2 separate regions of the Homo sapiens genome follow, and region 1 is linked to region 2. The links come from fine-mapping of genetic effects on gene expression. A gene starts in region 2. The other region holds a variant in brackets. All regions are shown on one strand. Distances are from middle to middle. Region 1 overlaps GRIA1 (glutamate ionotropic receptor AMPA type subunit 1). Region 2 holds the start of GRIA1 (glutamate ionotropic receptor AMPA type subunit 1).

What was found. PIP is the estimated chance that this variant, and not a neighbour inherited with it, causes the effect. A credible set is the group of variants that fine-mapping cannot tell apart.
Region 1: its variant is the best candidate, but not a certain one, in a credible set for the expression of GRIA1 in tibial nerve (GTEx, PIP 0.87).

Annotation. Positions count from the first base shown.
Region 1 is chr5:153,516,207-153,524,206 of GRCh38, forward strand. All of the region lies in intron 2 of GRIA1 (glutamate ionotropic receptor AMPA type subunit 1), which reads left to right. Among named protein-coding and RNA genes, the nearest start is that of GRIA1, 30 kb to the left of the region's middle. The variant G/T (reference allele first, on the strand shown) is at 4,920.
Region 2 is chr5:153,485,935-153,494,826 of GRCh38, forward strand. It overlaps GRIA1 (glutamate ionotropic receptor AMPA type subunit 1), which reads left to right and starts at 4,736. Exons shown (of 16, transcript NM_000827.4): 1 at 4,736-5,036; 2 at 7,994-8,131. The coding sequence starts at 4,955.

The DNA of each region.
Region 1 (8,000 bases), 30 kb after region 2:
GAGACTCTGTCTCAAAAAAATAAAAATAAGAAATCTACCATATCTACTTCTCAGGCATAAATATGATAACTATTTCCTTTAATTTCCCATTGGATAAATAACTGTTTATAAACATCTAGTTGCCAGACCCATGCTTGGAGTCTCAGGGCTAAAAGAAATGCTCCCCATTTGCTCTATGTGCTAGTCACATCAATCCCACTTGATCCCCACAGCACCCTTTGGGGGAAAGAGAGTAGTTGATAATCTGATTTTACCAATGAACAAAGGCTCAGAAAAGACTAGTTGATCCTAAAAACACCACACAGCATTCTAATGTTGTAAAAATACCTGGATTTGAGTCCCCTGTACACTGATGCCTTGTGGTGTGGCATTGGCTCAGATGCTTCCCTCCTCTGGGATGTGGACTGGCCTCTGAGGTCTCTTTAACCTCTGGAATCATGTGAGCTGGAGCACCTGTTGGCTGGGGAGACAAAAGGCTGCTGCGTCCAGATCTCCCTTCACGAGGAAGAAATGTGTCTGCACTTTTCATATCAAAGCACTTGGGCAGCATGGGGGCGTATTGTGATGAGGCTGATGGATCCTCCCTGAACTGGTGCCTCAGCGTTCCCATGCCAACTGAGGGAAGGAAAAGAAAAAAAGGAAAAACAAAAATCAAACACGAAAACTGAGCTTGATCTAGAGCTGAAGAAAAATATTCTACTGATGGCAACATTCATGGCCGTATTATGAAGAAAAACAAATTCATAAAAACCTCAGCTTGGCCTTAATGGTTGGATCTTAAGATGAGTGACAAATGACGAAATATTGGGTATGAGAGAGAGGCAGGAGGTGGGAGGAGAGCAGGCCCTGCAATCAGAATCACTTATTTGTAACATCCATTCACGAATACATTGCCCTCAGCCACGCAGGAAACCCACACAGGCCTAGAGGATGCTCTCTGCTTTTTTCGTGGTCCTGCCATTCCCACCAGTACCCAGAGGCCCGAACCAGCGAGGAGAAAACATTCACTCTTTCTCTGAATATTCAATTGAACTTGTTTTCAGTTTCCTGACAGCATCCAGATCCCCAGAGTGCCTGCATGGCTTTATTTTTTCATCCACCGCCTGCTGACTGGTCCCTCTCTTAATACCCCTCCTCCCCCAGGGCTTGCTTCTTCCTGTTTTGTGGGGAGCAGAACATTTGAGCTTCCAGGGGTAGTAACCACTAGTGCTGGTAAGCACAGCTTTGGAAATCAGGGGAGGGACCCTCAAAGAACCATGGAAAGTCCCCTGGGCCCTCAGAAAGGGAGGGATCAAATTAAGTAAGGGAAACAGACATGAGATATGGGCAGATGGGAAGCTAAGTAGCTGTGGCAGCTCCTTATAAAGAGATCACAGCTGGAGATGCGTTCACTAATCCCACAGAATAATCCTCTGTTTCTCTTTCCTGAACCCCCACATCTAGTTCATCAGCAAGTCTGTCAGTGCTAGTTACAAAATATATTTTGAATCCACACACTTTTTTCAAAAAAAATCTCTACCATAACCCCGTATCCCTCACACTGTGATCTTTTTCCCATATCACTACATTAACCTCCTAACCTGTCTTCTTGCCTCCTTCCAGACAATGTTCCACCTGGAGGCTAAAGTGACTTTTTAAACGTATTGAGCTGAACATTCCATTCCTCTGCTTAAGTAAATGTAGACTCCCTTCCTTGGCCTACAAGGCCCTCCATGAACCTGTCCCTCCCTAACCTTACCTCTTGCCCCTCTCTCATGTAACTGGATTTCAGCCTTCCAGGCCTTCCTTCAGTTCCTTAAACAGGCCAAGCTGCCAGGGCCTTTGCACTGGCTGTTCCCTTTGCCTGGGATGCCGTTAAATCTCATCATGGCTGGCTCTAGTTCACTATTCAGGTCCCAATTCCCACGTTACTTTCTCAGAGAGTGTTCCCTGAACACTTAATCTAAAGTAAATTTCTAATTGCCCTCTCTTCCAGCACTTCAACATCCTTCAAAGCATTTTTTTTAAATAGCCCACAGGTGCTACTAAACTTTGAAGCTTTTTTTTTATAATTAGTACCCATTTTGCCTACTTACTTGTATTATCTGATGTCTTTTTTTACCTGCTCAGTGTAAGCGCCACAAGAAAAGGATCTGCTTCTTGTTCCTTGTATCCTGTGTCTAGTCTGGGGTTAGCACAGACTAAGTGCTTAGTAGACATTTATCAAGTAACCACATAAATGAATGAATTTCTGAAGTGGCTATTTCTTTCTACCTGGATTTGAGCTCAGCCCTGGGGATACAGACATGAAAAATACACAGCCACTACTCTGAAGCTGCTCATGGCCTAATGAGGGAAACTGAGAAGTCAGTAGTTTCAGGATTAAAAGCCAGTAGTTTCAGGATTAAAAGTATGATAATGTATATTATTAATCATGTGTATACATGTACAATAATAGTAATAGTGGCCAAACTTGAGCCATTATGTGCTCAGCACTGTACAAATATTATGCAAGTATTTTTTTTCATATAATTGCCACAATAAACTTATGAGTTAGTATTATCACATTTAAACTACATAAAAATGCATTTGGCAGATGCAGAAATGGAGATACTGCGAGGTTCAAATAACTGGGCCATGGGGACAGTTAGTAAGTGGCTGAGTGAATTCAGCCTGGCATCGTGCTCCATGTCAGAGCCAGTGCTCTGAAGCACTAGATCAGTGATTCTCAAAAGATGACCGTCCTGGACTGGTAGAGTCAGCATCACATGGCAGCCTGTTAGAAATGCCAGTTCAAGGCCAGGCACGGTGGCTTACGCCTGTAATCCCAGCACTTTGGGAGGCCGAGGTGGGCAGATCACAAGGTCAGGAGATCGAGACCATCCTGGCTAACACCGTGAAACCCCGTCTCTACCAAAAATACAAAAAATTAGCCGGGCATGATGGCACGCACCTGTAGTCCAGCTCCTCAGGAGGCTGAGGCAGGAGAATCGCTGGAATCGGGAGGTGGCAGCTGCAGTGAGCCAAGATCACGCCACTGCACTCCAGCCTGGACGACAGAGCGAGACTCCATCTCAAAAAAAAAGGAAAGAAAAGAAATGCCAATTCGAGGGTCTCAGGCCGGACCTCCTGAATCAGAAACTTTGGAGTTGGGGCTCAGCACTCTGTTTTAACAGGCCCCGCAGATGATTCTGAAGATGCTCACCAAAGTTTGACAACCACTACCTATTGAATGACTTAATTTTATGGGATACTAGATCAGACTAGATCAGAGTCTGAAGTTTTTCTGTAACTCAGTTCTCATCTTAACGCTGTGAGTGTAGATTGCTCTCAATCCACGGCTGAAGAAGCCAGATTGTGACTGAATAAAGCCAGTTACCCTGCCTGACCCTGGCTCCAGGACCTGCAGCATGTAAAACATCATCCAGGAGTGCAGCCCCTGTGAAGACAGCTGACCTGAAGGGCATGGAGTCTGTGACCCCATCCACCTTGAGAAGCATGCTTCAACCAGCAAAGGAAAGACAGTCCTAGACAAGGAAACATCATCAAGTCTCTCTGTAGGAATACTTCATATCAGACCATATTGCCATGTGTTGAAGATTATTATATAATGATAATAATTAGTACAATAGTAATACCATACATTTTGATTACATTTTTGACATTTTCAAGGCATGTTTATATTCTAATAATCTATTTTCCCTCTTGATAATTTTATTTTCTCCCTTAAAAATCTCTCCAGTTACACAAAGTAGAGTAGGAGTGAAAGGATTGTTAATCTGTTAATCTGCCTGTCCAGGGGAGAGGCAAAGTAAAGAGATGTATCTGTGATTTCATGGCCTGTTAGGTTCGTAGTAACAATAGCTAATGTGTGTTAGGGAGCTTAAGTGGGCCAGGCTCTTTGCTAGATATGTCAGTGCTTATTAATTTAATAAAACCTCTAGACCCAAGGCTTCCAGACTCCCAACTGGTCTCCTTCAGCAAGCAGCGTTTCTTTTCTTTCACCTCACTCTGAATTCTTCAGACTCTCTAGTCATTCATTTATTTTATTCATTCAACTTTTATTTAGCTTATACATCCTACAGAGAAGGTGAAGGGCACAGAGGTGAATGTGCTGGCCCACAAATTGCTAGCTCTCTCAGGGGAATCCAGAACAATGCAGTGCCACCCACAGTGGAGCCTTGAAGGACAAAGGCAAATTATTTACCAAATCAAAAGTTGCCAGATTCAAGATTCTCTGCAGTTCTTTGAGGTTTGAGCTTGGTGCATAAGAAGAAAGGGGGATTTTGTTCTAATGAAAGACAGGACACAAGGGCCTACCTACAAAAATTGCTGCAATAAATGAGGACATCATTAAAATTGTCTTTGTGGGGGCCCATGGATATGGAAGTGAGTAGGGAAGATGTATACAAGCAATGGAAGGAATAAAAGACAGAAGACTTCCTAGATCTAGTGCTAGAGGCTCCATAGTTCTGTTCCTTACAAATGCTGTAACTTTGGGCCAGCCTCCCAACCTATTCAACCTTCTGCTTCCTTCTCCATGAAATAAGAACCTGGATTTCTTACTCACCTGATTCACAGGGAACCTCTGAAAATCAAACGTAAGAATTAGTAATAGTAATAATAACAATATAAATAGCTAACATCTATTGAGCAATTATATTTCTTACTTTCACTGGCTTATTTCATTTAATCATGAAAGCATTTCCATGAAGCAGGTAATGTTTTAGGCCCCAGTTTATAGATTATAAAAACAGAGGTTTAGTAAATTACTAAGTTCACCCACCCTTAACAAGCAGTGGAACAAGGATTTGAATTCAGATCTGTCTGATCTTTGAACCTATTACTATTAAATCACTACCCCAGAATTCAAAAACAAATGAGGAAAACTCTGCGAGTCATGCTGATGAAATGAGCGGAATCAAAAGAGGGAACAAAAG[G/T]GAGGGCCTGGGGTCAGAGGCTGTTAGCTTGGCATGAAGGATGGAAAGCATTTCCAGATACCATGTCCTGAGTGAGCACAATGCTTAGGCTATGCAGCAGACCCTGGACAGTGGACCAAGGTTTAAGAGTCAGTGTGAACTTTCAGGAAGAAGAGTTTATGCAGAGTAACACATGCCATAAACAGAAGAAAGTATCAGGGACCAGAGAAACAGAGTAAGAGGCAGAGCTGGAGTCAGGCAGCTGCAGATTCCAATGGCCTCTGACTTTCTGCTGTAGCTGCAAAGGTACATTTTATTTAACTCCATGCCCAGCCCTGTGGCAGTCTGGGAGCCCTTTGACAGAACTACAGCTTCCACATCTGGCTCAGTGGGGAAGGAGAAATAGATCTTCCCGGGCAAAAAGAAGCAGCTCAGTCTTGCTGCCTTCCCTTGAGTCTGGACAGAACCATCCTCGGTGGTGAGCTTCCCAGAGCCTTTTGGGAGTGGCTCAGGGGACCAATTTGCTTCCTTGAAGAATTTTGAATAGCTTCAGATGTAGCTCTGGTGGTTGAAGCTAAGGACAATAATGAAAATAATATGATAGCTGACATTCATTGAACTCTAATCAGGGGCTTGTTTTAAGGCATATTTTAGGCTCTATGCACTGTTGTGTGTCTTGCTGCTCTCATTACACCAAAGATATTATAGCACACCCACATCTCACATTGAATCTGATTTATGTGTGAGTTGAGTGGCATTGCTGCACACTAGTTGGTGCAATGACATGTTTTATAGATATTTAAATATTTATTAATTTGATTTTACAGTTTGCTTTTAATATTTCAGAGTCAATATATTTATTTTTCTGGTCAGACATACTTTTTAGGCCCACCCTTCAAAAGACTGTAGGACCCAGACACTGAGTTTTCTCATGCCACCTGGAGAAAGTGATCCTGTAATTATTGTGTTGGGAGCTGAGTGCTCCCACACATTGCCTGTGGATAAGTGTAAGACTCTGGAATTAAACTGCCTTAGGTTTGAATCCTGAACCCACTACTTTCTAGCTGTGTAATCTTTGGCAAGTGCCATATCCTATTTGTGCCTCAGTTTTCTCATTTGCAAGATGGTTATTGTAAGGACTGAATCAGAGAACACATAAACAGTTTAAAATACTACCTGTAACCTGTATCATGGCATGTAAAGTTGTTATTATTGATATTTAAAATGTCCCAGTGAGGTAGCCACTATAGTTATTCCCATTTTGAAAATGAAGTCAATTTGATGAATGGTGGAGAGGGACATTGAACTCAGGTGGTCTGACCGTAGAGCTCATATTCATAATGAGTAAGAGTTTGTATCAGTCAAGTTAGGCCAGGTTATACCACAGTAACAAATGACCCCCAAACTTCCATGGGCTAATATAACATGAGTTTATTTCTTGGTCATGCTGCAAGTCCAACACAAAATGGTGGGGGAGTGGGGAGAGGCATTGCTCCTCATGCTTCCTTAGGGACCCAAGCTGAAAGAGGGACCATCCTAACATGATCACAGTGTCAAAGGAACTTATGTAATAAGCCACACCCTGGCTCTAAAGCCTTATTCCCAAGGTCACGGACATCATTTCCACACACAGTTCATTGGATCAAGCAAGTTGATGGCCAGGCTTAACTTTAAAGGAGGTAGAAAAGTGAAATCTTACCATGTAACTGCAAAATTGGGAATAGCTAAATGTTATCTCAGAGGAAGGTTTTGAGGATCAAATTAATTAATCTATGAAATTATCAAAAATAGGGCCTAGAACATAGAAAAATCTTCTTTAATGTTAGGTATGAATTCTTATTAATTAATGAATTGCCTCTTGTAGCAGCTCTCCTGTATAAATATCTTCCACCTGATTCTCTTGTTCCTGATATCTCTCTCTCTCTCTCTCTCTCTCTCTCTCAATGATCCATCTTGCAGACCTGATCCATTTTATTATTAGACCTCTCTCTTATCATGTCATCTCTCTTGTTCTCCCTTGTCTGATTGGGTAAGTTCAGAGTCCTAAGCAAGATATCTGAGGGCAATCCGTAATTCACTTCTAACCTACTCTGGAATTTTTTCTCCCACTTTTCTCTAAGGCTGTGTTCTAACTGGAAGGACTCATTCACTGTTCCCAAATTAGACTGGCACATTCCTACCCCATCCCTTGATATTCTTCATTCTTATTGTATAATCTCCCTTCTCAAATGCCTCTTGCCTTTCTGCAATTTTATATCCCTCATTATGCAGTTTACCACTTCCTCCAAGAAGCCTCATTTTTCACCACAGCCTGAAATGATTTCATTCAGGGCTGAACTTCCACAGTACTACTCATTTGGCTGAACTTTACTACTCATTTGACCCTGAACTCAGACTGCTTTGAACATTTTTTTTTTTATTTATGCTTATGTTGTTACTGTTGTGGAAAGAACACAGAGCACAGCATCAGACTCATATTGATCTAAATTTCAGGTCTGTCATTGACTGGCCTTGACACCCTGTGCAGGTCAGCCATGTTCTCGAGCTCCTTGCCCCTTTCCTGTGACATGAAAGTGATTATACCTATTTCATAAGAATGCTGCGAGGATAGAATTGAAAACAAGTTATAGTGACCTACATATAGGAGATGACTGTCCTCATCATAGCTGTGTCCCTAGTATCAAGAACAGTACCTGGCAAATAATAGTCAGCTCAATGACTATTTGTTGACTGAATGAATTATTAGTAATCACCAGCCACTCTTACTGCATGCTAGTTTTCTCCAAAAGCTGTAAGTTCCTTGAAGACAGCTTTGAAAAGTAAAGTTCTTTGGAGTCTTAGGCAACGGTTCTCAAGCTTAATTATACAGGAGAAGCAAGGAATGTTATTGAAATGCTAATAGTTGGAATCTGGATGTACTGAATCAGAATTCCTGGCACAGGGCCAGGCGCAGTGGCTCACGCCTGTAATCCCAGCACTTTGGGACGCTGAGGCAGGCAGATCACAAGGTCAAGACATAGAGATCAGCCTGACCAACATGGTGAAATCCCTGTCTCCACTAAAAATACAAAAATTAGCTGGGCGTGGTGGGGCTCACCTGTA
Region 2 (8,892 bases):
CTCCAGGGTGGGTAATTACATTCTTTGGGGTGTGTTCTCACCACACACACAGTCTGTGGATTATTTTGGAGCCTTCTGTATGAATTGTGCTAGAAAACATGAAAAAATATTATCATTATTATTTTTTAAAACATCTTTAAAAATAAGGCCTTTCTAAAGCCACAGAGGCACCCTCTCTCTGATTGCATTTTTGCCAGTTGGTTAGCTGTCAGCAATCTGTTCTTAGATCATAAATTTGATGGTCCCCCCACCCCCTTGAATTGCTTTACACTAGAAACCTAAAATGTTAAAGCCAGAAGAAACCTTGGTGAAACACCCATATTTTGCAGATGGAGAAACTAGTCCAAGAAGGGAAGGAACTTGCCAATACCACTATCACAGGTAATAGGAGGTAGAGGAGAGAATGGGCCTCCCCAGACCTGACATCTGTCCTTTCTCTCCCTTACCCCAGCCCCTGCTGTCAAATGGAGTTACAGAGTGTCAGAACCAGAAGGGTCTGTAGCCATCACCACATCTAATCTTGTCATTTAATAGATGAGGAAACAGTCTTGTAGAGGAAATGGACTTGGCCCCTAAATTGATACTGGGCATGAGAAGTGGTTGGACTCTTGTCTCCAGGATTCCACTGGCACTCCGTGGCCTGTCAGTCAGATCAAGCTCAGAGGCACTACTCTTACCCTACCCCTTTTTTCCCTAAGTCACTATATTCCATATCCCATATATGTGTGTGTATATATATATATATTCCATATTTCTACTTTTCCTTGAGAAAAGAATCTGAGGATCTAGCCACTCTAGGCCTACAATTCCTCATGGTAATAATCTGCTGCCTATTGAGTCCCTGTGGCCACCTTTAACAGGGCACAGTCTCTCTAGTTCCGTTTGTCTTCCCCATTCTCCCCAACTTGGCTCACTTCATTCATTTCCCTGCCTGGCTCAAGGAAGCATTTGCATTTGTAATCCCTGTCCAACACCATTCTCCTTGATTTGCGGTGTCAAAACAAAGCCAAAATAAGTAAATCTTAGACTGTTTTGGCTACATGGTAAGAGGACTTAAAGTATGCCAAAAATATGAGCTGGGATGGGTCATAATTAATTTGAGGAGTAGGTGCCATGCTGTCTCTAGAGCACAATTTGAGCAGCATTTGGAGGCTTTTCCAATGGGATGTCAGCCACCTGGAGTTCCTCCATTAGATACTTAACTGCTGGACTTTAATGAGCACCCATCTTCAGATATCCCACTTTAAAATATGAAAAGTCTTAAAAGATAATCAACTTAATTTTTCTTCAGTGTAATATAATGGGAGGGACGCTGCAGGGTCCTGGTGCCCAGTCCCTGGCATGCCAATCACTAGTCCCCTTAAGGAAGGTTTTTTGGCCTCAATGCTATTTATATTTGGAACCAGATAATTCTTTTTTGTGGGGTGGATGCTCTGTGAATTGTAGGATGTTTAGTGGCATCCCTGGCCTTCACCCATGAGATTCCAGGGGTACAATTCCATAATTGTGAGAACAAAAAACATCTCTGGACATTTTTGCCAAATATCCCCTGGGGGAGAAAATTGCTGTCAGTTGAGAACCACTGTCTTAAGCTAATCATGTAGCCACTTTGAAGACTTTGCCACTTTGGGAATGGCAAATAGGACTGGGGACTCTAAAGAGAGACAGCATGATGAGCTAATAAAGGATGACGTCAAATAAGTTATTTAGGGAAATGAAGCTGTTTGGTAGGTAGTTCTAACCTTTGAGGATGAGGAAATGAGAAAATCACCTTCTACCAGTGGTCAATCTTTTCTTTCTCATGCACATGCCCGCTATTGTAACTAGCATACTAAAAATGCCCCCATGGCTCATCATGGTCCACCAGGAATTCAGTGGGTTCCAAATCCTGACACTGACTTCCTCTAAGTTCCAAGTTCCCCAGTACACTCTTCCCAGTTATGCACTGCCGGCTCCAGGCTAACAGAGCACGTGGCATTCTTTCCTGCCCCCAGCCTTTGCTGGGGCTCTTTCCTTGGTTTGCATGTCCTTCCCAGTCCTCAGTTACTGCCTATAATCTCCTCATCCTTCACGGCTCAGTTCTTTTGAAGCCTTGCTGGATCCCCACAGACAGACACACTGATTGCATCCTTCTTTGCTCCCCCGCTGCTGTGTTTACATCTTTTAGAGCACTTGTCATGGTCTTTCTGGGTGACAGTTGTCCGGGTTCGTCTGTCTTCTTCTTCTGCCACATTCACCTGCCTTGAGGCAGAGACTGTGTCTGATTCCTCTTCATATTGCCCAGCACCTGGCACCCTGTGAGATACAGAATAGGTTCCCCACCAACATTTGAAATGAAGAGAATTATAAAGAAACATGGAATAAACATTGAACCTAATGTAGTTTGACCTAGATGCCTACACTTGAAATATGTAAGTTCTATATTTAATCAGTGAACAACTATGTATTTAATAGACCAAGGGGAGCTATTGACCATACTTGAGCAGGGCAATGACGTAGACCTCTGTTTTAGGAAGATCTGCTTGACTATATGATTTATAATGACCATGGAAAATTCATCTTTTTGACTCCCTTAAAAGTCCCCTCCCTACAAAGTATGCAAAACAAATCTTACCTAATGCAGGGGGACATTGAGGTTTTGCTTGTAAAGGGTCTAAAGAGCTTCCTCTAAAAGGTGATTGCAAGGTGTGAAGCCTTTAATGACAGCCTAATTATTATTATTACCAGGCACAAAGCTTAGGGAACCTAAAAGATCCCCAGGTACTATTCAAAGTAGTAAGATACAAAAACTGAAAATGGAGAAATTAAAAGATGGAATCATTAAATCAGAGACTCTTAATGTTGGCAGAGACCTTAGAAGTGATCTTTCCTGATTCTGTTCTCTCATCTTCCTATGCTGATGCTTATTCTTCCTTTAGAAGGTTCCTACCCAGTGCTTGCTGTTATTAGAGCCTAAGAGTTAAGAGCTGGGGCCTGATGGTGGCATTTACTGTGTTTAAATGCCCAATCTCTTTCATTAGCAGTGAAAACTTGGGGTGAGTTTTTAGACCTCTGTTTCTTCATCTATAAAATGGGCATGAGGCTACCTACACAGGTATTGTACAAATAAATGATGCAGGTGCATTTCTTAGCATGGTACCTGGCACATTCAAAATAGTGAATAAACATTAGCCTTAAAAATTATTTTAGCTAATTAATTAATATATGTGAAAGTGCATAGGAAATCACAAAGCATTTGACCTCCAAGTTGTTCCTATTTTGGGGCTTCATTGTACATGGTCAGATATTTTTTACAAATCCCAGTCCTTGTAGCTGTCACTCAAGTCCACATGATATACAGTCCTGGTGAGGGAAGTGAAGAGTCTGTGGATAAAATGGCCTATTCATATGGCAAAGCAAAATGGAGTCCAAAGTCTATTATTTCTTTCTTACTAAAGACAAAGTTGACTTTCCTTTTCCTGGATCATCTCCTGTTGGACAGGAGTCCTGGCCAGGGCAGTAAGTCAACTGGTAACGGCCAAAGCACTCAAGTTTGTAGGTTGTACTGTACATCTTAGTAGGTCTGTGTCTTTATGACTTAATCCCAGAAGTCTTATCTTTTTCATCTGTAAAACAGGGCTCATGGCCACTTTACAGGTTTGGAGTGAAGATAGATGGATAAAAATCTGTAAAGTTCCTTCAAAAACTGTATTCTGTGGCGGCTAGTGGCTGCTGCTTTGCATTTAACACTACTATCCTGAACACAGCTGATCTCTCTACAGGTTATTTCAGCAGAAGCCCTGGTCTAGGAGAGTCTATGAAGTTCCAGCTTACACCAGACATGACCAGCATCCAGAAAGACCTGAAAGAAGCTTGAATCCTCTCACTAGAATCCCTGCAAAATGACTCATGTAATTGCTCTGTGTAAGTATCCTTAGTCTTTATTGTACACCCACACGATTCTGATGCTATAGACTCCTGTGGAATGCAGGGAAAGAGAGAAGGGGGCCCATTTTAAATGCCTAGGATTGAAAAGAGACCACCGTTTCACTTGTAAAGGTAGACAGGGACTGTCAAATACCTGGTCAAAATACCTGCCAGTCACTCCAGATCCTCCCTTGTTTGTCTATCTGTCATTCCTTCCATTAGGAGAGAGAAAGCTTTTTTTTTTTTTTCCTTTAAATTTCCTAGGAGGGATTTCTAGGGTCTTTCCCTCAGGAATTAGTTGTAGGAATAATTGGGCCAGTGGAGTGCAGGAGATATATCCAGCGCAGCCCATGCACTCCTAGAAAAAGTGACCTAGATCAAGCAGCTGGTGGATTGAGGACTATTGTGGGGACCCCCTGCCACCTACTGACTTACAGCTGAACCCACATTCCCAGCAGCTTCAGCCTGGGGGCTGGGGGAGCGGGCAGACCGAGCTCAGAAAGGCAGGGGAGGGTAAAGAGGACTGTGGGGTTGCCCCTTTCAGGACCAAGTGCCACGTGTCACACACCCCCACCTCCACCTTTCTGCACACACAGAAAGGAGGATAAGGTGAGGATGGGAGGAAGGGGGAACAGGTAGGGAGGTCGGCTGTGGAACTCCAAGCTAGCTCGGTGGGTATTAGCATAGAGCTTGCTGCCTGTGTGAGTGTGAGGGGGAGAGCGAGAGAGAGCAAGGGAGGGAGAGAGAGGCAGGCTGCGAGGGGAGAGGAGAGGGAGTGGGGGAGCCAGCGCTCCAGCTAGCATGAGGACGGGCTTCTTTTCCCGTGCTCAGTTAATCTGGCTGTCAGTTGGTGTTAACGCTGCAGTTTAAGTGTTCGGATTCCAAGGGAAACAGACAAACCTCACGAAAGGAAGGAAGCAAGCAAGCAAGGAAGGAACTGCAGGAGGAAAAGAACAGGCAGAACAGCGAGAAGAATAAAGGGAAAGGGGGGGAAACACCAAATCTATGATTGGACCTGGGCTTCTTTTTCGCCAATGCAAAAAGGAATATGCAGCACATTTTTGCCTTCTTCTGCACCGGTTTCCTAGGCGCGGTAGTAGGTGCCAATTTCCCCAACAATATCCAGATCGGTGAGTGAGGGGGCAGCCTGGGGAGGGACTTTCTGGGTCTGGCCAGGGATTTTTTTGGGGATAGGGGTTGTGTACCCCCTCCCCGGTACTGACTGTTTTGCTTGGCTCCCTAAAGCTGTGCTGCGGTAACAGAAGGGAGACTTGGGCTTACAGCCAGAGGAGGGGGCTTCTCCTGATCGGATGAGGGGCAGAGGGGAAGTGTTCACACACGCACACATACCCTACTCGCACTCCAGGCAAGAGCATGTGAAATGGAGGAACCATCGCTTTGGAGGAAAAAAAAAATCAGGCTGGAAAGGGTGGTGGGTGTTTAAGGAGTTAACTCTATTGCTTGGTAGATGGTGCTTGATTCCATTTTTAATGTAAGTATGTATGGTGTGTGTGTTTTCACGTGTGTGATTATATATTACATATGCACATATATATGTAATTGAAGGAGGCAGTGCTTTCTCTGCTGGGGGACAGAAAAGAGACCCTCGAGAAGAAGGAGTGAGGGGTGCTGGGTATATTGCAGCCACTGAAATAATGCCAGAAGGCCCCCACTCCAAGGCGGGTAGGCTCCCTCTCCTGTTCTGGACTCCTCCAGCTGCCTTCTCTTTGCTGTCTGCCATGCTGCGCTGGTGGTCTCCACTCCCCCGATCCTGGAACTTCCTCGCCTGCCTTTTCTCCGTTCCTTCCTTGCCCCCTCCTCTTAGATTTCCTATCCACAGAGGTCTACCTTTTACACACACAAACACACACACGTACACATGCTCCTTTCTCCTCCTGTTGGCTCTCCATTATCCTTGTTACTGGGCTCCATCCTCTCAACTTGGAGGCAGGTTTCAACATGCTGCATGCTTTTTTTGTTCCCCATTTCCCCTTCTTAGTTGTTACACTTCTCAAAGGCCCCGCCACCCTCCCTGTATTTCTGAGGGGACTGACAGATATTGCTACTCCTGATAATCATGAGGGAAAGCAAAACAAACAGAAGCAATAACACCAATCACAAAGCATGTCCACAAGGGCTTGGGGCTTCCGTGTGACCAGCATGTCAGTGTCGTTTGTGTCCCGGAATGAAGCAAGCTGCTGTGTTTGGAAGCATCTTCGTTGGTTTGGTTTCTAGTCTCTCTCCCCTGGTAGGGAGATAGCTCCACTAGGGAAAGTTCGCATTGCTGGGAGTTTGTGCTCTTTTGTGAGTGTGTGTTTGAGGGGGGATGTGGTGCAATTGATATTTTGTCGGGCATACATGTGCTGCAGTACCCATCTCTTTCAGCCTCTCCAGCTAGCTGGCGGCTTGGAGTGGCCATGGAGTAACTTGCTTTGTTTCCTGACACCTGTTAAGCTACATCCTGAAGTGTGTACGTATCTGTGTGTTAGTGCCTAACACGCAAAACTTCCTGCCTTCAGGGGAGACACTTCCCTTGTAGCCCAGCCCGTAGCCTTCTACTCCTCAACCTCCCATCCTTTCTCTTTCATTCATTGCAGAGGAGGAGAAAGGGGACAGGGAAGTGTTTGGGGTGTGGTCATCTGGGGGGAAGGGGGAGCATCATAATCAAGAATTTTTTTTGTTTTCATTCTTTAAAATGGGAGCACTTGTACATGTGGAAATCACTGGCTCTTACATGTGGCATTGTTTACATTTGTGCTTATATACTACCTATCCTTTGTGGCTTGGAAGTGTTTGTCTAGTATATTTGTGTATATAGTAAATGGTATAAATGCATGAGGATGTTTCATGTATGTGCTATGTTTTCTCATGTATCTCTGCATATTTTTAAAATTATATTTAGCCCTAACTTGGTTGTTCAACTGATAAAGCCATTGCTACTGTTTTCAAAAAAAAAAGAGATTGAAGCATTAAATTGTAGAACAAAATGCTGAAAATATCACTGCCATCAGGTAGTACTTGATTCTATTTGTGTGATCTGTAACAAAAGGCTTGCAATCCATTTATTGGTTCTTAAAAACAGACACCCACTCTACAAGAAGTTAGAAGTGCATTATGTTTGGACTGTGATTACTGTCAGATTTGAGATAAACTTCTATGTAAACATCATTATAGTTCAGTCTCTAGAAATGGCTGATTTTAATTCACAGAAATGTAATTGATTTACATGTTGACAGTAAATACAAAGGTAAGCCATGGACTCTTGTTTCTCGGAACAGGCATCCCATCAGGCACCTTTACTATACCTTTTACTAGAATAGAATGTTTGTATCCTCTTGAGATGCCTAAGATCCCACATCTTTGAAGCACAAGGTTCCACCATGCAAACACACAATGGCAATCCCTTATGTAACAAGTCATTCCTAGGTAACTGGGATCATGTGTGGTGAAAGAGTAAGCAAAACATTGTTTGCAGAAAAGCAAGAGTTTTTAGAGAAAATGAATAATAAACCTTAGGGGCAATAGAATAGTTAAATTGCATGCAGGTCTTGCTAGGCCAAAGACTAAAAACTGTCCATGTAAACAGTTATAGTAGTGGAGAAGCCCACAGGGTCCCAGAGCTAGATTTCAATCACCCTGCAGCACTGATTAGTACCTACTTCCCGTAAGGCTCTCTGGTGAGAGATGAGGCTGATGTAAGAAAAATTAGACATGACTAGAGGGTGAGGGGGCTTATGTGTATGTTTATATAAGAGAATAGCAGCTCCTAGGTGGTTTGCACAAGGGAGGAAGAAGAGAAATGGCACAAGTCTCCTGTTTTCTCTGACTTTAGCTGAGTTGAGGGGTACACAATCAAATGTTTGAGCAAAGTAATAGATATTAGAGGCCCATGTCACAAAAAAGCTCATCTGTAGGAGTTTAAGTTTCAGTGTCCAGTTAAGCCTATTTGAACTCTCATCTCTACCACTCAAGGCTACAGCTAGTGAGTTTGGCATGGGGAGAAGAAAAGGACTCATCTGGAGTGAGTCGTGAGGAACTAAAACCTGTCTCTAGCCCATATACCATGTTGCATTTTCTTTTCTCATAGGGGGATTATTTCCAAACCAGCAGTCACAGGAACATGCTGCTTTTAGATTTGCTTTGTCGCAACTCACAGAGCCCCCGAAGCTGCTCCCCCAGATTGATATTGTGAACATCAGCGACAGCTTTGAGATGACCTATAGATGTAAGTAATTGCTTCTATTTCTGAGATGTCTTTCTGCGCTAGACCAATGAAAGGAGGGCCTGTGGGTAGGTGGTGGTGTTGCAAAAATGACTTCAGTTGCCATTCGTCTTTGTAAGAGAAAGCCCTCCAAGAAAAATTTCTAGAGGCTTCTGAGTGATTCCAGCAGTTGGCATTTTAGCCCCTGCAATGCTTCATGTAATGGATTTGCTTTTTCACTGTCAGCTAACTTTAATGCCAGCACGATGGGTGCTTGGGTTGACTGCATCTTCCCTACCTTGCAGAGGTTTTCTGGCACAGCTGAGAGAGTTTTACACATACGAATCTTCTGAGAGGCATAGAATTAAGGGTCCTGAGTTTGTGAAAATGTGGTTTAAAGTGCTTAAGGCATTTCCTATCTACATGTTAAATGGACAGAATGTAGCTTGATAAGAAATAATAGCTGAGAAGTTGTACACATCTGGTTCTTCATTTTCGGAAGTGACCAATAATTAAAACTTGGTGCCTTGGTCATTTTAAAAATAGCTTGAGGAAATTGGTTGTTTAAGGCACAGTTTGTAGGATGGTCATTGAGCATCAAACAGAACAAAGGTGGCCTCAAGAAGAAGGGATAGATAAATCTCTGACATCTGAATTGAATGCATTGTAAAATGTGGGCAACAAACACCATTCTGAGTTTTCCTGGCAACTAGGAATGAAAAGGAAGCCTGTGCTCACATGATTGGCTTTTCATGACAGATGAAAGCATAAAAATTAATCAGGAA